Linked DNA regions of Homo sapiens. The protein of the gene in region 2 interacts with the protein of the main gene of each other region in a biochemical or structural test. Each region holds a gene or a part of one and is shown on either strand. Other genes may lie near its edges.

Region 1 (7,642 bases), on a different chromosome or scaffold from region 2:
GACCTGGCAGTGTCTTGCTGGGGCAGCTGAAGCCTGTCCCTGTCTTTCCCTGAAGCCGAGGCAACCCTGCAGCGGCAGGAGGAACTGGAGACGATGTGTGTGCAGCTGCAGCGGCAGGTCAGGGAGATGGAGGTGAGAGAGCTGGGCCCCGGGGGATGCGGGCAGCCAGCAGTCCCCAGCTCTTCACGGCATGTTCCTCAGGAGCTGGGTCCGAGCCCACCTCTCTGGGCCTCTCCTCGTCACATCCCACCCAGGGACCCTGCCCTGCATTTCCCTACCCAGGACTGGCCCAGACTTTAAAGAGCCAGGGAGGTGTCTGGGGCTGGGGCACACCCCTGCTTTTGGGCCCTCTGAACATGCCTCTCCCCTGCTTAGCAGACCTCATGGCTCCCACTGAACTGAATTCTACAGTCCTCGCTGTGGCCCCTGCGGGCTGGCCCCTGCATGCCTCTTCATCTTAGCTTGAACCACTCTCCCCTCCAGCCATGAGGCCCTTCCTCTGGGTCTTTGACCTCATGGAGCTGCTTCCCACCTCAGGGCCTTGGGCCGTGCTGTTGCTGTTCCCTCTGCTGAAATGTTTCCCCACCTCCCCCAGGTCAGTTCCACTGTCCTCAGTCATATCCCCCGGGCCTCCTAGGCAGGTTTTCCATCCCGAGCTTTCTCAGTGCCTCATCTCTCTTCCCTTGTGGGACTCTGAACTCCACGACGGAGGGAGCAGTTTCCTCCTGTATGTCACTGTGCACCCAGGACCTAGCACTGAATTGGTTAAGCAATTTGCTGCCTCTGGCTGTGACTTCTGCTCACTGGGGACTCAGTGACCCCAGTCACCTTTCTTTCCCCCGCTCACAGACCCATTCAAACAGCAAGGGAACTAGAGGGACACCAGGCACAGAGAAGGGTCCCAGGCACGCATGGGCCCTGCCAGAAGTTCTTCCTGGGATTCAGCCTCTCTCCCTCTCCACGCAGAATTGGTTTCCAAAGTCCCAATCTAATTTAAAACCTTGGCAGCAAACCTCCAATTGCAGCTGAGAGCCCTTCCCACTCCAAGCTGTTCATACCTGGGGTTGTCCCCGAGCAGTGGCCACAGGCGGTGAGGGCTGCACCAGAGCCTCGGGGCAGGGGCATGACTGCCCTTGCATGCGTCTCCGCCACACAGTTATCACTTCATTCATTTAACAGCCTCATCTGGAGGATCTGCTTGGGGCAGGCCTGGGGCAGAGCATGACCAAGACAGACATAGTCCCCCGCCTGCATGAGGCTGCCAGTCTGTGGGGAGGGGAACAAACGAGTACACAGGTACACAAGTACAGAGAGTGCTGTGACTTGATGAAATGGGTGACACCACAGAGGCAAGTTGGGGGACCACCTGCGGGGGTGACATTGGGCATGATGTCTGGTGAGTGAGGAGGGGAATGGGGTGAGAGGATCCAGGCCTTAGACAGGGAAGGTGCCACTTCCCGCCACATAACTTGGCTTGCGGTCGGTGGCTGTGTGGAGGAAGGAGAAGAACGGGAAAAGAGAAGAGGTCGTGGGGGCCTTATCACATTGGAGCCGCCCGTGGTTCTGGCTGGATCCTGTCCCGAAAAAATGGGAAGCCATTGGAAGGCTTCTGTTTGAGAGGTGGCATGACAAAAAGACCACCCTGCTTTGTGGGGTTGGGTGGTGTGGGTGAGGAGAGGACGGGGGAAGCAGGCGCCGCCCCTGGATTGTCCAGGAGAAAGATGACGGTGGCTTGAACTAGGGTGGTGGCAGCAGATGGAGCCCAGTGGATGGGTTCCAGGCTGCATTGGAGGGGGCACCACAGGCCTTGTGGGTCATCCTGGAGGAATGGGCGACAGAGGATTCTCAGGTGGAGGGGGTGCCATTTCTGGAGACAGGAAAACCTGGCACGGGGGAGGTTTGACAGGGGGACAAGAGCCACAGCCATTAGACATCCAAGTGTGGACGGTTGGAAATGTGAGTCTGGAGCTCGGGTGAAATCTGCATAAATACAAACTTGGGTTCTGTCGTATATATTTGGGAGAGCGTGTGGATGGAGCTGGGCCCCCATGAGTTGGTGTTGGATAGGAAGGGGAAACGGTGAAGGAAATTGGAAAGGAACAGCCCAGGAGATGGGAGGAAAACTAGCAGATGGTGAAAGATAGACAGAAATGTGCCCATGCGCTTGGCAGCGGGTAGGTTGGTGGTTGCAGCACCTTGAGCAGTTTCAGAGAGGTATGGCGATGGAGCCAGGTTAGAGTGGCTTGAGAAAAGAAGTCGGGGTGTGGACATGTAGACAGTCCAGAAGTTTCCTGTGGCAGAGGGGACATGCGGCCAAGCCCTAGGGAGGCTGGCACATGGTTCACATCCCTCAGCCCTGCCTCCTTCTCACACTTGGGCCAGGCCACGTGATTTCTGCAGCCAAGGAGGCTGACCTTACCGAGCCCTCGCATGGGCTGGGCGCTGACCTGAGTGATCTTACTGAGCCCTCCTCACAAGCTTATGTGGCAGGAACTGTCACTCCATTTTATTAGAGGAGTCGTCTGAGGCTCTAGGGACTGAGGTGGCTTTCCAAGGTCACAGCCAGGAAATGGCAAGATCCCCCTACTCATCCCTTTGTCTGGTCAGCTCTGGGGGCCCCATTGCCTGCAGACTGAGGCTGGGCTTTGGGCTGACACTGCCTTTCCCTGGGAAGGGGCTGAGCTGACGGTGCCCCGCATCTCCCCCTTCTTTCCCACAGCGGTTCCTCAGTGACTATGGCCTGCAGTGGGTGGGCGAGCCCATGGACCAGGAGGACTCAGAGAGCAAGACAGTCTCAGAGCATGGCGAGAGGGACTGGATGACAGCCAAGAAGTTCTGGAAGCCAGGTAGAGCAGGGCGTCTGCCCCAGGCCCTCTTCAAAAGGAATTCTCCAACAGTTTGCTGTTGGCCGGCAGCTCCCCAGAGGCCTATCTCATTCGTGCCCGGGTCCCTGACCCAAGACGCCCTGAGAGCCCACAACTTGCCCCTGAGACAATGTGGGAGCAGCCTTGGCCTCCATCACTGACCACTTAACCTGCTGGCCCACTTCTCCACGGTCCTACCTCTGCTCTCTCTTGCTCATCTGTCAGAGACCCAGAGATACAAGAGGTAGCAAGGCCTTATTTGCCTCAGGTCACATAGTCTACAAAACGCCACCAATCTGGAAGATGTTGCCGTTTTAAAAAAAGGCAATCCTTCTGTTCTAGAAGCTGCTGCCAAATTCCCAGGTTTGGCCTCCCTCTCCAGGTTTGCTTATGGCCCTTGGAATCCACCTGGTTCTGTGGGCCCCTACCATGTCTTTTTTTTTTTTTTTTTTTTTTTTTTTTGAGACGGAGTCTTGCTCTGTCACCCAGGCTGGAGTGCAGTGGCACGATTTGGCTCATTGCAACCTCTGCCTCCCAGGTTCAAGCAATTCTCCTGCCTCAGCCTCCTGAGTAGCTAGGATTACAAGTGTGTGCCAACACACCCAGCTAATTTTTGTATTTTTAGTAAAGACGGGGTTTTACCATGTTGGCCAGGCTGGTCTTGAACTCCTGACCTCGTGATCTGCCCACCTTGGCCTCCCAAAGTGCTGGGATTACAGGTGTGAGCCACCACGCCTGGCCTACCATGTCTTATTTTTAACTTCTAATATCTAGAGGGATTCCTCCCACAGTCCCCTCCTATAGACCCACAGATTTGGGTCCATAAAACTGGCCATTTCTGAAAACCAGGCCCATTCTCTTCAAAGAATGGAGATTGTCACCCAAAAGATGCTTCTCCAGGCTCTAGAGTCAGGCACACCTGGGCCCTCAACTCGACTCTACCTCCTATCCCAAGTGTGACTTGGGCAGATGACCTCTATTCACTTCATCAACAAAACAGGAGTGTTCTTCCCTGGGAGTTACAAGGAGCAAATGAGTTAAACGCAGAGCGCCTAGCTCTGGCCTTGCAGCCATTGTTGTTTCCAAAGTCTGAGGGCAGGGGTCCCACGGGAATAGGAGCACAGCTTCCAAGGGGCCCATTTGGAAGATGACGACACCTTCTTGGTTTCCTGCTAGGTAAAAACCCAGATTCCAAACATGAGAATCCTGCCTCCTGTTTAGGCCTGGGCTCTGGCTGGATCCCCCCAGATCTCAGGGTCTAACGCCCTCACTGCTTGTTCTCAAAACATCACTTCCCATTTTTGTGCCATTTGCAGCTTTCTTTTTTTTTTTGAGATGGAGTCTTGCTCTTGTTGCCCAGGCTAGAGTGCAATGGCACAATCTCGGCTCACTGCAACCTCTGCCTCCTGGGTTCAAGCGATTCTCCTGCCTCAGCCTCCTGAGTAGCTGGGATTACAGGCGCCCACCACCATGCCCGGCTGATTTTTGTATTTTTAGTAGAGACAGCGTTTCGCCATGTTGGTCAGGCTGGTCTCAAACTCCTAACCTCGTGATCTTCCCGCCTCGGCATCCCAAAGTGCTGGGATTACAGGTGTGAGCCACCGCGCCCAGCCATTTGCAGCTTTCAAAGCATTTTCTTTTTTCTTTTCTTTATTTTTCTTTTTATTTTTTGAGGCAGGGTCTCACTTTTGCCTGGGCTGAGTGCAGTGGCACAGTCATGGCTCACTGCAGCCTCAACCTCCTGGGCTGAAGTGATCCTCCCACCTCAGCTGTCTGAGTAGCTGGGACTGCAGGCACGTGCCACCACACCCAGCTGATTTTCTTTATTTTTTGTAGAGACGAGGTCTCGCTACGTTGCCAAGGCTGGTCTTGAACTCCTGGATGCCAGTGATCCTGCTGCCTCAGCCTCCCAAAGTGCTGGGATTACAGTTGTGAGCCACTGTGCCCTGCCAGCATCTTCATAGCCTTGACAGGGGCCAGGAGTTACTCCATTTCACAGATGGGTAAAGGGAGGCACTTAAGGAGTCTGTGGACTCATTATTGAGGGAAGAGGGGCAAGACTTAAGGCTGACAGCCCACTGTAAGGCAGTTGGTCACTGAGGCAGAAGATGAGATGATGCCCAGCTTGAGGGTGGGGATGGTGAGAAGGGATGGGCAGAGAGATTTAAGTAGAATCCGTGGCCTTGGTGTCTTTACATGAGGGAGAGGACCAGAGGAGTCAGGGATAACCCGAGGGAGCACAGCTGCGGGAAAGATGCTGAGTACACTTGGGACACAGCAAAGCTGGGGGCTGTGCAGTCCCTATGATGCTAGGAAGGGGAGCGTGTCCCTGCTGCCCAGGGCACTGTAGGCCCAGGCATGCCAACTCCAAAGCTCTAACTGAACCCAGGGTGGGTGTCGTGGGGAGAGTTCTCAAGGGACCCCTGGCATGAGTGAGAGGTGAGGCCCTATTGGGTGGCTGCAGGTGCTCTGAGAATGTCTATCCTGGATCTAGGCCAGAGGCCCACAAGTGCCGCACCCTGGGCCCTGCTGTGGCGGGCTGGGCTCAGGCTTCAGGTAGGCCTGCCATCTTGTTGCAGGGCAGCCTTCCTCCTGGCCAGGGGGGACCTCCTTGCTCCTTGCCAGGTGGCTGGTTTCTGGACCTGGCTCTGTGGATTCCTACTCTGCCCTGTTTGGTTGTTTGTGCTCTGAGTGCCTCAAGTCAAAGTAACTTGTGAAAAACCCTGCCCTCCATCTTGGAGGCCCTGGCCATATCTGTGGTCCCTCCGTGCGTTCTCTTCCTTCTTTTGTTCTTTGATTTTTTCAGCATGGGCGGGGGGCCTTGATTCGGCTCTTTCTGCCAGATGAATGACGTTTTTCGTCGCTAGCAGCTTCTGTTCCTGGGACATCTCTCCGGCGTCCCCGTTCCTCTCTCCCCAGGTGCCACCCTGCTCCGCCCAGGGGCCTCAGGCTCACAGCCTGGCCCCCGCTGGCCTGCCTGACACTCGGCTGATTGCTCTGCTCTCCCTCTGTTGGAGAGGCTCCCACAGGCGCTGGGGTGGAGGCCTGTGGAGGGTGAGCCAGGGCCGTCTGTGCCGAGCCAGTGGGGTGATCAAACTTCCTGGAGCCTGGGACTCCTAGGGAGGAGGGCCGGTGGGGCCATGAAGGGGCTTGGCCTCAGGCTGGATCGCTCACTCTCCCCCTCTCTCTGCCAGCGTCACAGAGCATGCTGTGCCAGGTGCTTCAGGGTCTGTGGAGACATGAAAGGGACAGTCCTGCTCTGGTCACACGCCACTGGGGCCAGGTGTTGGGCCTCGGGGCTGAGAGCTCTGGTCAGCTCTGAAGTTCTCCCTTCCCCCCCACCCTCTGCATCTCTGAGCTCCTCACTCCTCACTACTTCCCTGTTCCCCTGAGAATCCTCACCCTCTCATCCCCCTCTGAAATCCCCACTTCCCCTACCCAAGTCAGTCCCTGCCTCCCTCCATGGCTCCACCTCTCCCTGCCAGCACCCCACACGCCTCCCTCCTTCCTCTCAAGCCCCACACTCCTGAGTCTGGGTTGGAGGCCCCCTGACTCCGCAGCCTGCGTGACTTGCCCCTGGGCTTGCCCTTCAATCCCAGAGCCACCTGGCTTGACCCCTCCCCACCTGCACTTCTGCCTCCAGCCTTTGCTCCTGCTCTGTCCCCACAGAGCGCCTTGCCCGCTTCCCTCCCCTCTGAAGCTCAGGGCAAATCCAACCTCCGCCAGCAAACTCTGACTGCCCTGTGTGGGCTGTGCTGCTCTGTGGGGAGGGCTCTGCTTGAGGGAAGGGGCTAAAAGCTCTGGCTGAGGCAGGGTTCAGGTCGGGTCAGACCCCAGATCAGCAGATCGCTGACCCCCTCTGAGTTCATTTCCTCCTCAGTCGTGCTGACGGGCTCCTAGGGCCACTGAATGGATGTGGTAATAAACTGTGACAGCCACTGTCACCTAGCTGTTGTCATGCATGTCCCAGTGCTTGGCACATGGGCAAGGGTGTGTGTAGCTGCATGTGATTGGCTGTGATGCCCGTGTGCCCAGGCTTGGATGATCAGAGCACATTGGAACAGTCATCTGCACATGATGAGGTGGGGACAGGGTGGTGCGTAGCTCAATGGCAGGGGCCAGAGAGAGCTGCAGGTGGGACCCGGCAGGCCTGAGTTCAGATCCTGCCAGTCCACAGGCTGGTTGAGTGTTCTGGCGGGGACCAGACCTGCAGGGCCTCCTTTCCTGCACTGGCTCCTCTGAAGAGCAGAGTGACTGCAGTAAAGTCCCCAGAGCGGGGCCTGGCTTGCAGGTGTGTGGTAATAGTGGTTCCACTTCCTGTTGCAGCCGTCTTTGCCTGAGGGTCAAGGGCAGGCACATGGAGGGCGGCACCGCGTGAGCTGCCGGGGTGCCCTGGGCACTTGTGCAGTGAGGGGCTGCCACCTCTCCACTGAGCATGGTAGGGTCTGGCCCTCTTCTGGGCTCCACAGCCCCCACAGTGATACTTACACATGCCATTGTCGCCATTTGCCGCCCCGTCTTCTTCACTTGAGTCTGAGCCTGAGGATGGCAGGACCCTGGGCGTGGGCATCGCCATGATGGGCAGGGCCTAGCAGAGCACGGGTGCTCAGACATTTCTGGAAAGCAGGATCCAACCCTGCTTTTAGTGGCCCAGCCACTCTGGGCCAGGCCCAGGGCTCAATGCTCCTGAGCTCAAGGGGTGCCCAGCATGGCTGGAAGGCAAACAAGCAAGCAGAAAGCAGCGGCCTGTGACGAGGGCCAAGGGAGTAGGTGCAAGG
Region 2 (6,868 bases):
GTCAGTTATTCTCAAACTCCCTCTTTCAGATTAGGTTCCCATAAGGAAGGAGGAAGTGGCCATGGTGTGTGGGATAGGGTTTCCCAATGTTGGGCTCAGGGTTGACCCTGTTCCCATTATTTACTTGCTAGTCTTAGGGGAGGGGGATTGCTTGGAGCCAAAATGGAGGCCTCCTCCCCTCCCCCTTCCCCAGTGCTGCAGTGCTTCCGCTCCTCAGTGCTGCAGTGGTAAGACCCCACCTCAGAAAGGGATGGAGGAGGCTTGCTGAAGGAGCAGGCAGCTATCCCAACTCCCCTGTATTCCTTTTTTTAATGACCAACATCCCCCCACCAGCTTGGATTCCCCCCAGTTTCCATGGCGATTGTGGTGCAGGGAGAGGGGCTGCTTGCTATTCTGAGCACGGATTGTCTGGGTTCCAAATCCGCTACTGCTCCTTCCCCAGGGTGGAGGGGGCAGGCTCAGCTCCTAGCATTCTCCCATATGGGACCACCTGGGTCTGCATTGCCTATTTCCCTTCCAACGAAGGACTCTTGCTCTAGCCTCTAAATCCCCAGCCATCGGTGCTGCTGTCTTTGAGACTGCCTTCCTGAGATGTGGGGCGGTCAGGAGGTACAGCTTTCCTTTTGCCCTTTTCAGTGTAAGCCGATCTGGGTGGGTGGAGAAGTGGGGCACTGAACCCTTGATTCTCTCCCTCCCCTGCTAGCCTCCTAAAGTTCTGACCCCATGGAAAAGCAGCAGGCAGGTTATGTAACAAGGAGGTTTTTCTCTTCACTGGGGAGACCCTGGAGCAGAAGGGAGTGAAGTTGGGCAGCAGGCAGGCTCTAGAAGAGAGAAGCCCTGAAATAAGTGCTGTCTCTCTGCAGGGCTGGAAGCATCTTCTGGGACTCAGAAAACTAGTAGATCTCCAATTAAGCCTGCTGTAGGAGACCCAAACAGGGCCAAATTATACTCCACCCACTTTATTTTGTCTTCTTTCCCTTTTTCTGGACTAAGGGGGATGATATTCTTTCATGACCTTCTGGCAGACAGTCAGGTCCCAAGCTTCCAGCCGCAGTACATTCCCCCTGGGAGATGGGTGGATCCTCAGGGATTGAGGATGGTATTCCCAGGGCTTTAGGGCTTAGGCCTATTGGGGAAGGAAAACACCATGGCTCACCATCAGCTCTTTCTGGCCTACACCAGGATCTCCCTACTACGATAATGTCCGTCCACTCTGCTACAGCGACTCGGATGCAGTATTACTATGTTTTGACATCAGCCGTCCAGAGACAGTGGACAGCGCACTCAAGAAGGTAAGACTAGATCAACTCTCTAATCTCTAACTCAGCATGAGGACCAAGAAGGAATCGGGACCTTGTCATGAATGCCCTCTTGTATAACATCAAGAAATGGAAGCCAGGGAAGGAAGAGATTTGCCCAAGGCCACACCATTAGCTACAGCTCTGGGACTGGAACTTGGGTCTCCTTACCCCACTGCCTCCCGCCCTTTTTGTTATCCCATGCTGCCTTGCCAGAGGCCCCGCAAGGGAGGGTGGTATTGAAGACTCAGGAAGCAGAGGACGGAGAGTCAGAGAACCTTTAGGTGATACGGTATGAGGGTCAGGCATGGGACCTTTTGGAGGCAGCTTCTATAGACCCTGATCCCAGTCCCACTGAGAATGGGCAAGCCAGGCAGGTCTGAGCTGAGCTGCTGGTATGAAATGCTTAGGTCTGGGCAGATCCACCAATGCTGAGGAGTCCTAGGAAACCTTGTGTATCTAGCATAGTATAGAAGATGCTGGGATCATGTTCTTCCCTTGAGAAGAGACTGGTTGGCTTCCCCCTGGCATTCTGGACTTGTGAGGCCCTTTGGGGTGAGGGGGCAGATCCATGCCTATATGGTTGGCAGAGAGTGGGAGGAGAATTGCCCTTGTGCCCTCTCTGGTGACTGAGCCATAGACTGGGGGAACAGGCTCCTGGGTCAGCACTCTGGGGGCCCCAAAGGCCTCATGGGCAGGAAAATGATGTAATTAGTGCAACGGTGATGCTGTGACTCAGAGGGAGGACTGGGCTGGTGATGAGTGAGGTGATGTGTGTGACGTTGCCAGCCAAGCTTCTCCTGGTATCTGTCTGCCACTAACTCTCCTTCCTTCCTCCTTCTCCTACCCTTCTTCCTGCTCCACCCCTCAGTGGAGGACAGAAATCCTAGATTATTGTCCCAGCACCCGCGTTTTGCTCATTGGCTGCAAGACAGACCTGCGAACAGACCTGAGTACTCTGATGGAGCTGTCCCACCAGAAGCAGGCGCCCATCTCCTATGAGCAGGTGTGTGCGCATGCAAGTGCATGTCGTGGGGTGGAGTGAGGAAGGCTAGAGGCAGACAGCTTGAAATATGGCCCTGGCTCAAATTCTTCCACTATGGCAAGAGAGAATTGCTGTTATAATTAGCAAATGAGTCACCTGGAGAGAGGTGGTGGGCACCTGCTTACCCAGATGTATGCTGTCAGTTAGCAGGTGAGTTATTCCTGTGTGTGCCCACATTTCTAAGATTGTATTCTGACCACCTGCGTTAGAATCATTAGAGGTGTTTGTTAGAATTTCACACACACAAAAAAAAGAGGCCAGGTGCAAGGTGGCTCATGCCTGTAATTCCAGAACTTTGGGAGGCTGAGGCAGGAGGATAGCTTGAGCCCAGGAGTTTGAGATAAGCCTGGGCAACAAAGCAAGACTGTCTCTACCAAAAAAAAAAAAAAAAAAAAAAAAATAGCTGGGTGTGGTGGTGAGTGCCTGTAGTCACAGCTACTCAGGATGCTGAGGTGGGAGGACCGCTGCTTGAGCCCAGGAGGTTGAGGCTGCAAGGAGCTGTGATCATGCCACTGCACTCCAGCCTGAGTGACAGAGTGAGACCCTGTCTCAAAAAAAAAGAAAAGGAGGAGGGGCACTGGGTGCGGTGGCTCACGCCTGTAATCCCAGCACTTGAGAGGCCAAGGCCGATGGATCACTTGAGCTCAGGAATTCAGGACTAGCCTGGCCAACATGGCAAAACGCTGTCTCTACTAAAAATACCAAAAGTAGCTGGGTGTGGTGGCATGCACCCGTAATCCCAGCTACTCAGGAGGCTGAGGCAGGAGAATCGCTTGAACCTGGGAGATGGAGGTTGCAGTTAGCTGAGATTGTGCCACTGCACTCCCACCTGGGCGACAGAGTGAGAGACTCTGTCTCAAGGAAAAAAAAAAAAAAAAAAGGCCAGGTGTGGTGGCTCATGCCTGTAATCCCAGCACTTTGGGAGACGGAGGCAGGTGGATCACTTCAGGTCAGGAGTTCAAGACCAGCCTGGCCAACGTGGTGAAACCCCGTCTCTACAAAAAATACAAAAAATTAGCCAGGTATGGTGGTGCACACCTGTAATCCCTGGGCAACAGAGTGAGACTCTATTTCAAGAAAAAAAAGTGTGATCTGCCTAGGTTGGAGTGCAGTGGCACAATAGTTGTTTATGCAGCCTTGACCTCCCGGACTCAAGTGATCCTCCCTCCTGTCTCCCTAGTAGCTGGGACTATAGGTATGGGCCCCACGCCTAGCTAATCTTTTAACATTTTTTGTAGAGACAAGGTCTCAGTATGTTTCCGGGGTTGTTCTTGAACTCCTGACATCAAGTGATTCTCCTACCTTGGCCTCCCAAAGTGCTGGGATTACAGTTGTGAGTCACCACACCTGGCCTGGAATCTGCATTTTTTATAAGACCCCTGGATAATTTCTTATGTGCATGAGAGCATAGGGTTGGGGGACTGAGTTTCGCTCTTGTCACCCAGGCTGGAGTGCAGTGGTGCGATCTCAGCTCACTGCAACCTCTGCCTCCCGGGTTCAAGAGATTCTCCTGCCTCAGCCTCCTGCGTAGCTGGGATTACAGGTGCCTGCCAACACGCCCAGCTAATTTTTGTTATTTTTAGTAGAGATGGGGTTTCACCATGTTGGCCAGGCTGGTCTTGAACTCCTGACCTCAGGTGATCCACCTGCCTTGGCCTCCACTGCACCTGACCTGGGGAGCTCTTAAGAATACTAATACCGGCCAGGCGCGGTGGCTCACGCCTGTAATCCCAGCACTTTGGGAGGCTGAGGCGGGCAGATCACAAGGTCAGGAGATCAAGACCATCCTGGCTAACATGGTGAAACACCATCTCTACTAAAAATACAAAAAATTAGCCAGGCGTGTTGGCGGGTGCCTGTAGTCCCAGCTACTCGGGAGGCTGAGGCAGGAGAATGGTGTGAACCCGGGAGGCAGAGCTTGCAGTGAGCCGAGATCGCGCCACTGCACTCCAGCCTGGGCAACAGAGCGAGACTGTTTCAAAAAAAAAAAAAAAAGAAAAGAAAGAAAAAGAAGAATACTAATGCCTTGGCTCTATACCCAGAATTTTTTTTTCCTTTTCCTTTTTTTTTTTTTTTTTTTTCCAGAGACAGGGTCTTACTCTGTCACCCAGAATGAAGTGCAGTGGTGTGATCCTAGCTCACTACAGTGCAGAACTCCTGGGCTCAAGGGATCCTCTCTAGTATTTGAGACTATAGTTGTGTGCCCACTTCCAGTGAATTTTTAAACATTTTTTAAAAGTGTTTATTATTATTTTATTATCTTTATTTTTGAGATTTATTTTTGTAATTCCAAAGCGCTGGGATTATGGGTGTAAGCCACCGCGCCCGGCCACCTAGGCTGGTCTTGAACTCCTGGCCTCCTCAAGTGATCCTCCCATCACAGCCTCCTGAGTAGCTGGGATTAGAGGCACTAGCCACTGCCCCAGCTATCCCCAGAAATTCTAATTTAGTTTGGCATCAATATAGTTTTAAGAGTATTCCAGATGATTTATAATGTGCAGTCAGGCATCGTCTTAAGAAAAAGAGGCATCATCAGACAGGGTGTATGCCAAAAAAAAAAAAAAAAAAGAAAAGATAATCGAATAATCTGCAGAGGGTGGTGTTTGGAGACTGGCAGCTGGGTCCCCTCTGGAGTGGCCCTGGGGAGTGACGCACAGAGGCAGCGTCCCAGAGCCATTTTGGCCCACTGCATTAATGCCCTCACCCCCTCCTGCAGGGTTGTGCAATAGCAAAGCAGCTGGGTGCAGAAATCTACCTGGAAGGCTCAGCTTTCACCTCAGAAAAGAGCATCCACAGCATCTTTCGGACGGCATCCATGCTGTGTCTGAACAAGCCTAGCCCACTGCCCCAGAAGAGCCCTGTCCGAAGCCTCTCCAAACGACTGCTCCACCTCCCCAGTCGCTCTGAACTCATCTCTTCTACCTTCAAGAAGGAAAAGGCCAAAAGCTGTTCCATTATGTGAAGTGGAAATTGGAGGGGGGAGACAACCCCCTACTTCCTCCCTTGGGGTGCAGAGGCACGGGGAGAGGGAGGATGAGACAATTTAGGACACTGGACATGAGTTTTTCAGATGGCCACGGTGAGGGCTTGGAAGGAGACAGGAATGGGGCGAGGAAGGAGCCAGGCCCGGCATGAGGACCTGACGCTGAGAGAGAACCATCATACCCCAAGCCAGGCACTAGATTTTGGAGGGGGCGACTACCCCAGTGCCCCCCCCGCTCCAGAGGAAGGAAAGCTGTGGGGGACGGGGGGCATGCTGGCCTCATGGGCTTGGGGGCCTACAGCAGCCTCACCTTCAGCTTCATGCCTCTTCCACACAGCGTTTCCATGCAGGTCAGGGGATGGGAGGGGTCCCTGAGCCCTTCCCTTCCCCTCTAAGGAGGCAGCAACGGAGAGTGGGGAAGTGGAGCGGCAGCTCCCTTGGGGGCTTAGCCCAGGTGCTTCGTAACTGCAATCGGAAGTGCAGGAGCTGGTCAGAGCCAATGAGAAGGAAACCTCATCTTTGCATAGCCCATGCCTCATGGAGAGGTGACATCATACATTCACATGCTTCTCACCTAAGTCCCCAGGGTCCAAGGGAGAAGCCCCAGACCCCCTTCTCTTGCAGAGTGTGGGGGTGGTGGTGCTGCAGGGGCAGGGCTGGGTGGGGGTCACCAGACTTTTTCTGCCCTTAGGGTAGTACAGCTGGCATTTGTTTTATAGACTCTTGTCTTTGGAATTGGGGGGAGGGGGGGAGTGTTTCAATCTGTTATATGTTCTGTGTTTAATGAAGAAAACCTATTTATTAATGAAAAATATAATACATATAAAGAATTTGGCTCCGTATTTTTTTCTGTTTTCTTTAGTTGTTACAATTGGTATTTTTTTTTTTTGGTCTTTTTTTTTTTTCCTTTTTGTGGAGAACAGGGTCTCGCTATATTGCTCAGGCAGGTCTCAAACTCCTGGGCTCAAGCTATCCTCACATCTCTGCCTCCCTAAGAGCTGGGATTACAGGCATGAGCCACCGTGCTTGAGCCCTTTGGTTGATGATAATGAGAGAAAAGCTGTCCTGGGACCCTTTCTGTGGGTTGCAGAGGGGCTGCCTCCACCATTCCCCAGCTCCTCCAAGAAGGAGCTTCTCTCTTCCCCCATCCCCCTGCCCTAGCCCCACCCAAGACCTACTAAACCAAGGAAGGGCTCCTTAGCCCGAGAGCAGGGGTGCAGGGGTTCTCAACCCTGGAACTATTGACATTTTGGACTGGATAATGCTTTGTTGTGAGGGACTGTCCTATGCAGCCCAAGATGTTTAGCAGTGTCCCTGATCTGGTGGATGCTAGAAGACAGCACCCCACTCTCCAGCTATCACACCCAAAAATGTCTCCAGACGTTGCTAAATGGCCCCTGTGGAAAAATTCTGGTTGAGAACCACTGCCCTGGAGAGTCTAGAGGAGAGAAAAAGGTTGGATGAAATCATCAGTAGAGGATCCAAGCTGCTGAGATTCCACCCCACATAGAAGGTGGACAGACTAAGCCAAAGCTGGGGGAG
Region 3 (7,642 bases), on a different chromosome or scaffold from region 2:
GGATGCCAGGCCTCTGCCACGAGGGCTGCCTTCCCCTGAGCTGGGAGTTCTCACTCAGCTCATGCCTCCGTCCCTCTGGCTGCAGCCTGGCCGCCCTCCTTGGAAGTTGGCGGGGAACCTCTTGTGCCCAGAGCCTGCCTTGGACACGGTTTGGGGATGAGGTGGTGAGCTGCTCAGAATTCACCCAGTGGCCAGCAAGTGGCCCCCCAGCCTTGACCTCCCTTCTCTGAGGCAGATCCAGGTTCTCTGGGGGTGGGAGATTCAGTAGGGCTGGGACTGGCCACAGCCCCTCCCTCCCTCAGGGGTAGTGGCTGTTTGTGTTTGGGGTGGGGCTGTGGGTGGGGTGGGGCTGGGTCTCTGACTAATTACACGATGGGGAGGGTGGGTCAGAGCCTTGGCTGGTGGGGGGTGCTCAGGCTCTGGGGCCCCGGGGAGGCAGCTGCCCTAGCTTCCCTCTTTCTGGTCGAGGTTCCTCCACCTTCTTCCTTTCCGTGGTTTCACATCCCTTGACACAGGGCCTGCTTCTTCCCATACCCCTGGATTGTAAGGACCCCTGCCTTTCTCTGCCTACCAGGGAAGGACCCTGCACTGTTCTGGGCTCCCCCAGCCACAGGTGTGGCCTCAAGCCAGGCCCTGACACAGTGGCCCTCCTGGCTCAGAAGCCTTCTCTCTGAAGACCAAGCGTGTGAAGGGATTGGCTGGGCCCCTCCCGTCTGGCCCTGAACACTGGCACCCCGCACCCCCCCAGTGGATCCACCCTGCCCTGTGAGATTCATGAACCTGTGACAGTGACTGGCCCCAGGCCCAGTGGTGCCGGGGATGGTGGGACAGGCTGCCCCTGGTGGTACTGCAGGTTTGCCCCACCCCCGGGGATGTCTGTCTGGGGAGGAGCCTGGGGCTGGCCTGGCTGTGGAGCTGGGGGTTCTGTTTCGCACAGTCCCGCCTCTGCAGCCCAGATCCTGGAGCCCTTCACACCCAGAGGCCAGCCCACACCGTGGCCCGCTATGGTTGGTGGCCTTCCCTGGGGGTAGCCCCTAAGGCCACACCTGAGCTGCCTCATGTCCCAGGCTAGGTGAGGGAGGAGACTGCCCTGGGCTGGGATCAGGGCGCCTGGGGGCAGGTCCAGCTCTCTTCCTCAGCCCCCTAAGGTCTCCTGGCTTCTGAAAGCCAATAGTTCCTCATTCCAGTGCCAGCTGAGTCCCGGCCCAGGCCTGGGGCAGGAGAGGGAGGTGCTGCCCCAGTTCAGCCACCAGCTCTGCCAGCAGGGTCCCAGCAGCAGCAGCATCAGAGGCAGGGACTGGGCTCCTGGGGGTAGGGCCCCGGCCCCTCTGGCACAGCTGGTCAGCAGCTTCCATGGGGGGCCCTGTGTGGAGACACAGTGTCCAGCACCGATTTCTGGGCCTGATGCTGCCCCAGCTGAGTCCCGCAGCAAGCGCAAGAGAGAGAAGTGCTTGGTGTCCACCTCTGAGAAGGCCTCCTGTGTGAACACGGCCCCCTGAGGGGCCAGGCAAGGGCGTCTGCTCCTGTGGCTGGGACGGTTCCTGCCCACGAGCCTTGTGTAGGGCTGCGGCTCTCTTCCCAGGTGACCTTCTGTTGTGGTCTGGGGCCCCCGAGCCAGCATGCCACCTGCTCAGAGACAGATTGGGCCCCCTGTCAGATTGGCGTCTGGGGGCACTGTCTGCTCCTTCCAGGCAGCTTTGAGGACTTCTCAGAGGAGGAACCCCCCTGCCCTGCTGGTCCAAAGTGGGGTGCTGAAGGCCGAGGCAGTTTCCAGGGGGCTATGCCTCAGGCTGCGTGGGTGGCTGTGGTAGGAGCGTGCTCTGTGATTGTCACTGCATTTGCCTGGGGTCCATGCTCTGTCCTCAGCTGGGGTCTGGCTTTGAACCTAGGTGAGTTCTGGGGCTCTGAGGACAGGCCAGAAGCAGGAGTGTGGGGGGGTCTCTCCTGGGGGAAGCAAGGGAGGCCTGGGCCTGTGTGACTCAGACGTGGTAGGGTGGCATGGGAGCCACAGCTTGGGGGGATGGCGGGGGGCTTGAGGGTAATCCAAGTATTTCAGGGACCCAGCCATGGAGAGTGGGGTTTGAGGACCAGCAGGAGGTGAGGACTCTGTGGATCCCAGCCCTGTCAGGTGTGTTTTCAGAGCTGGGGCCTGCTTTGGAGGAGATGGAGGGCACAGAACACTGCTGAGCCCAGGCCCTGTGCCCAGCCTTGCTCCAGCCTTACCGGCTTGACACCAGGGCCTCCCTCCCACCAGCGAGGGGGAGAAGCTATTTTAAGTGGAGCCAGCAGTTGACAGGGGCAAGGGGCAGGTGGTGGGAGGGAGGTGCTCCAGCATGGCCCCCCCCACTCCCTCTCAGCCTCAGAGATTGGCCAGGGGAGCTGAGGGGCTTGGCCTCCCCACTCCTATGTTGGCACCGAGCCTGATCTGGTGACCACCCTGAGGGACTTCAGGAGAAAAGGATGTTAGGGAGGAGGGCGTGAAGGTGGGGCGCCCCAGGCAGGCCGCCCAGGCCCAGCAAAGCTCGCTGGAGGGTCCCCCAGTTCCACATCTAGACCTGGGGCCCAGTGGCTCTCGACCAGGCCCTGTGGGGTTTGAAGTCCTCAGCTCCACCATGAGCAGAGCAAGCCTCCGCGTGGAGCAAGGGGCTGGACCTGGCCTCCAGGGGCACCCACCTCCCCACACAGCTCCAGCCACGGGCATCACCTCCCACTCACTGTCCTGCCCCCACTCTGAGATGGGCATTTCCTCACTGGGAAATCCCTGTCCCTCTGGCCTCCCAAAGCCCTGAGTGTTTGCCCCTGTGGGGCCCAGCCCACACCCTGGGCTGCCTCACCCTTGGCCTGGACCCAGGTCCTGCCCAACACCCTGTGCCTCACCAGCCCCCAGCTCATCCTGGGCAGACGCAGCCCCTCTCCCCTGCTGAGACGGCCCTGCCCCCACCCCACTTCCCCATGCCACACATGGCCCCTCCCTCGGGGCTCCAGGCAGCGCTGGGTTCTGAGAGCCCCACTGCCCCTCTTAGCCCAAGTGCCCCGGCCTGAGGCTTCTCTCCCAGGCTCTTTGTACTGGGGACGAGTTCTGGGTGTTGGGGTGAGACCCTGTTGGCAGGGCTTTTCCGGCAGCACCCAGCCATGTGTGTCTGCACATGTGTGGTCATGTGTGCAAGTGGTGTCTGGCACACAGGCTTGGCGCGGTGCCCCAAGCTAATTGTGGGGTTCAGCGGTGATGGGCGAGGCGGGGCTGGGGTGACCGCTGAGGCGCTGACAGGCTGACGGGGAGATTACAGGCCTTGCTTACTGCTCACTGGCTGGGGCCTCACCCGTCCACCCCCCAACGCCCACCCCGGGGGTGAGAAGGGGGCTGTGGGCGGGGGCTGGTCTTGAGCCAGCTGCATCCAGGCAGGACCTGGTCTCTGAGCAGCCGGCTGCTGCGGGGTTGAGCTGGAAAGGGGGAGATGCGTGGGGGCCACTCAGAGGAGAGCCTGCAGGTGGGGCTGGGCACCGGCGGGCCGGGAGGCCTCCTTTCAGGAGAGACTCCAAGTGACTGAGCCCCAGAATCCCACGAGAGTCCCTCCGTGGCCGCCTGCTGTCTGACCGCATGTCCTGTCCTGATGAGTTGGTGGTTCCTGCTGTAGCCATCGGCCTCGTGTGCCCCGAGCGCCTGGCGGTGCCCACCCCTCCCACAGGAGGTCCTCAGGAAGCACGGAGACATCGGTAGGTTCATTGCGCTGCCCAGCTTTCTGACCCGAAGGACCACGGTGTAGCAAGAGGGGGCTGCAGCTGTGCCCAGGTTGGACAGGATGGGGTCTGGGACCCCGAAAGGGGTGGTTGAGGAGAGAGGTGGTTCTGCAGGCCTGGTGCGTGTGGGGACAGGGCGCCGTAGCCAACTGGATCCCACCTTCTGTCTGAGGGCTGGGGAGGACCATCCTCCAGATGCGCCAGTGGGCCGTGGCCAGAGAGGAGGCTGAGGAGGGCCTCACAACTGTGTGTAGGATGGGAGGGCAGCCTGGGGCCCCAGTCTAGGGACGCACCATATACAGGGGCTGCACTTGGTGCAGAGGCGGAGAGGGGGCTGGGGCAGGCCCCTTGGGCATGGCCAGGTGAGCTCAGGGGGTGCCTGAGGGCCAGGGCTAGATACAGAGGCCCTGGGTACCAGGTGGCCTGGGTGTGTCAGGAGGTGTGGACCAGTGGGGGCTGTGACTAACTCGGCTGGAGCAAGTGACAGGAGGAGCTGGGGCTTCATGGGGCACCCCCAGGATCCTGGGCTGGTGACCCCATCACTGCCACCAGCCAGGGTGACTTTTCCTGCTGGGACCCAGAGCCCAGACTGCAGGGGAGGCTGGCCCTAAGTAGGAACCCCACCCTGAAACCAGGCTGGCGGGGAAGGGGTGCGACGGCCTCCACCTGGGAGGGGTCCTCAGCCGAGAGTCCAGCGGGGACCGCTGTAGACGCTGAAGCGAGGCTCAGGCCTCCACATCAGTCTGTCCCTGGAGCCCCGCCCCGCCCCGCCCCGCCCCAGCTCCTAGGTCGGGTTGTGCCGGGAGCGTTCGGCCTTTGCCTCGGGTGAGTCTGGCCTTGACCCTGGGTCCGGAGTCCTGCGGGAGGCTGCTCCGGGCAGGGTCGTGCATGATTGGCAGCTGGGCCGGGAGGGGCCGAGCCCTGAGACCGACCGGGGGCACGGGCGGAGCCACCATCGGCGGGGCGGAGCTGCTCCCCGCGCCCCTTCCACGGCTCGGAGGACTTAGGTAATGGCCGGCTGTGCGATCCGATGTGCCCGACGCCAGGTGAGCGCCCCGCGGGGACGACGTCTCCTGCGCTCGTGTGACTGTCGCCGCCGCCGTCATTGTTACTCGGGTCAGACTCCCACCCGCCCGCGCGTCCTGGGCCCCCGGCCTGGTGAGGTTTGTCCCAGAGGCGGCCACGTGCTCCCTCCAGGTGCGCGAGGCCGAGGGGCGGACGGGGCGCCGGAGTCCCCGGGAGGGCGCGGGCGGTGGCCGTGGAGCTTGGGCTCGCGGGGGGCAGTGGGCGGCGCCGAGGAGGCGCGGGCCTAGTCCCTGCGCTTCCTGGCCCCGGGCGCGCTTTGCCCCTGGCTCCCGGGCAACCGTTCTGCGCCCTCCGGGGAGTCTGGCGGTGCCGGCGCCGGGGGAGGGGCTGTGCCACCTGGGTCGGCCTGCGAGGAATAGTCCAGGGCGCTCCACACAGGCCGGGTGCCCGCCTTTGGCTCTGGCCGGGTACCGGGCTCGCAGACCCACCCAGGAGACACCGCCCCCCGCCTCCCGGGCTGAACTCTGACCCGGGTCACCGGTGGGTGGGGCTGGGTGGCGGGGCCGCCGGTCTCGCCCTCGCCGGGTCTCCCGCGCGCTCTCCACCCAGTCCCTCCCCGCGCCTACCCACGGGCGCGGCGCTGCGGGAAGGGGCGGCCGGGGTCCTTGCCGACCCCCCAGCCCCACGCCCCGCGGCACCCCCCTCGCGCTTGTTTTGAAAACAGCGGAGGCTGGGATTCGCCGGCGCGTCTGTTTTGTTTCCTCTGATGTGTTTAGCGCTCTGGGATAATTGCAGATTTGCGTGTGTCGCTAGCTTTGGCCCGGCCCCCTGGCTGCTGGCTGCGGGGCCTCCGGGGCCTCCGTGGCTTTTCTGTGACGCCTGTCGCCCCGTTCCGGGACAGCCACTCTCAGACGCGCCTTGGCCTGTGCTTGGGGCAGCCTATCGCTCACTTGGTCCGAGGCTGCTTCCCCCGCCCCCGCACCGGGCCCCCCCCCCACCCCACGCAGGGCCTGTGTCCACCCCAATCCTTTGAGCCCTGGAGGGCCGCACAGCCCTAGGACCTCTGCCTTCTCCACCGCCCATGTCCTAGGTGCTCATGCCACCCCCTCCTGCCCTCCCAGGCCTAGGCCCGAGCTCTCCTCGTTCTTCATGGCGGCTGCTGCCTGGATCCCCATCTTGGCCCCTGCCGGGCCGCTGCCCATGCACCTCCTCTGGCCCCTGCCCTCTCTGGTTCCCGTGCCAGAGCCCACAGCCTGGCCTGGCCAAGAGCAGCCCCCAAGCTGGGCCTGCCCTCCCACTGGGCCTGACTGCTTTGTGCTGGTTTGATTTTAGCATTAAGAATGGTCAGTCTGGCTGGGTGTGGTGGCTCACGCCTGTAATTCCAGCACTTTGGGAGGCCAAGGCGGGTGGATTGCCTGAGCTCAGGAGTTCGAAACCGGTCTGGGCAACACGGTGAAGCCCCATCTCTACTGAAATACAGAAAATTAGCTGGGCATAGTGGCGTGCACCTGTAGTCCCAGCTACTGGAGAGGCTGAGGCAGGATAATTGCTTCAACCTGGGAGGCAGGGGTTGCAGTGAGCCAAGATCATGCCCCTACACTCCAGCCTGGGTGACAGAGTGAGACCTGTCTCAGAAAAAAGAAAAGAATGGCCCAGTCTGTTTGCTTGAAAATACTGAAAGGCAGAGAACTCCCAATTTTAGTCCCCACTGGAACCACCCCGCAGTGCAGCCAAGACTTGGGGCGGTCTCAGAACCAAGGCTGGCAGGAGTTTGGGGGCCTGGCAGCCCCCACTCTTGGCCTCATCTGGAGTAGGGCTCTGTCCTTCCCCCTTACATGCCTCTTGTTTACCTTTACCCAGTGGGAGGGGCGGGGGCCAGACTCAGCCCGTGCAAGGGGCCTGGGGGCTGCTGGTCAGAAAAAAAAAACAAAAGGGACCTCAGGAGAGGGCCACAGGTGCCCAGCCAGCAAGCAGCTCCTGCTGCCTCCCAGGCTGTCTAGGTTGTAGAGGGGAGGCCCAGCATCCCTGTGCTGCCCTTGGCCTACATCGGAGTTCTGGTTGGGGGAGGAGACCCTTCTGCTCTGTTGGCCTGGGGGTGACCTGCGGGGACAGGTCTTCTGGGCTCGCGCCCCTGCATGTCACCACCCCTTCCCGGCTCACTGAGTTTGGACCGGCAGGTGCCCAGTGACCAGATCCAGTGTTTGGACTTGTTGGGGCAGGGCGGCGGGGCAGCCGGGGCCTGTCGGGGAAGACCATAGACCACAGAGCAAGGCCAGTCCCTCAGGGGCTGGGTTAGGGAGGGTGTCTCGGGGTCTAAAGGATGGGCAGGGGCTTTCCAGGGAGCACAGTGAACATGGACGTGGGAATGTCGTGAGGCAGCGTTCTCTGAGTGGGCACAGCTGTAAAGATTTCCACACCCACTCAACCTCAAGGCAGCCCTCTGAGGTGGGCGCCATAATGACCCCCAGGTTACATATGGGGAAACTGAGGCACAGAGCAGCTTTCTGAATGGCCCACATGAGCCAGCTAGAACGTGACAGAGCTGGGGTGTGAACTCACTGGTCTGGCTCTGGACTTCAGGCCTCGAGGTCCCTGGGTGCAGCAGCGTCAGGTGTGACCACAGCCACCTAAGGAAGAAACTCCTTTTTCTGGGGTAGCTAAGCGGGAATCTTGTGAGCAGGAGATGGAGCCTGGCTCAGTGTTGAGGGCAAGATGGATGGAGGTGGGAGAAGCCAGAGGCCGGGCAGAGGAGGTAGACTTGGGCCAGGAAGGGCCCCAGACTGAGGGTGGAGGGATCATGGTGTTATTCTCTGGGAGGGGAAATCCATGGCCGTTCTCCACGGTGAGGGCCAGGGAAGAGGACGGCAGAAAGCCTCCT

Evidence for each region.
Region 1: the proteins of RND1 (region 2) and UBXN11 form a complex in vitro, tested with the Homo sapiens proteins (one study listed by BioGRID).
Region 3: the proteins of RND1 (region 2) and PLXNB2 form a complex in vitro, tested with the Homo sapiens proteins (one study listed by IntAct).

What each region holds. Positions count from the first base shown.
Region 1 is NC_000001.11:26,289,409-26,297,050, reverse strand, and holds part of UBXN11 (UBX domain-containing protein 11), read left to right. Parts: intron 1-55; coding exon 56-132; intron 133-2,719; coding exon 2,720-2,846; intron 2,847-7,642. UniProt on the Homo sapiens protein: May be involved in the reorganization of actin cytoskeleton mediated by RND1, RND2 and RND3. Promotes RHOA activation mediated by GNA12 and GNA13.
Region 2 is NC_000012.12:48,856,433-48,863,300, reverse strand, and holds the end of RND1 (rho-related GTP-binding protein Rho6 precursor), read left to right. Parts: intron 1-1,182; coding exon 1,183-1,292; intron 1,293-2,169; coding exon 2,170-2,304; intron 2,305-5,059; coding exon 5,060-5,305; 3' UTR 5,306-6,156; downstream 6,157-6,868. UniProt on the Homo sapiens protein: Lacks intrinsic GTPase activity. Has a low affinity for GDP, and constitutively binds GTP. Controls rearrangements of the actin cytoskeleton. Induces the Rac-dependent neuritic process formation in part by disruption of the cortical actin filaments.
Region 3 is NC_000022.11:50,297,419-50,305,060, reverse strand, and holds part of PLXNB2 (plexin-B2 isoform 3 precursor), read left to right. Parts: intron 1-1,239; exon of another isoform or gene 1,240-1,582; intron 1,583-3,391; exon of another isoform or gene 3,392-3,598; coding exon of another isoform or gene 3,599-3,714; intron 3,715-4,549; exon of another isoform or gene 4,550-4,563; intron 4,564-4,725; exon of another isoform or gene 4,726-4,935; intron 4,936-7,642.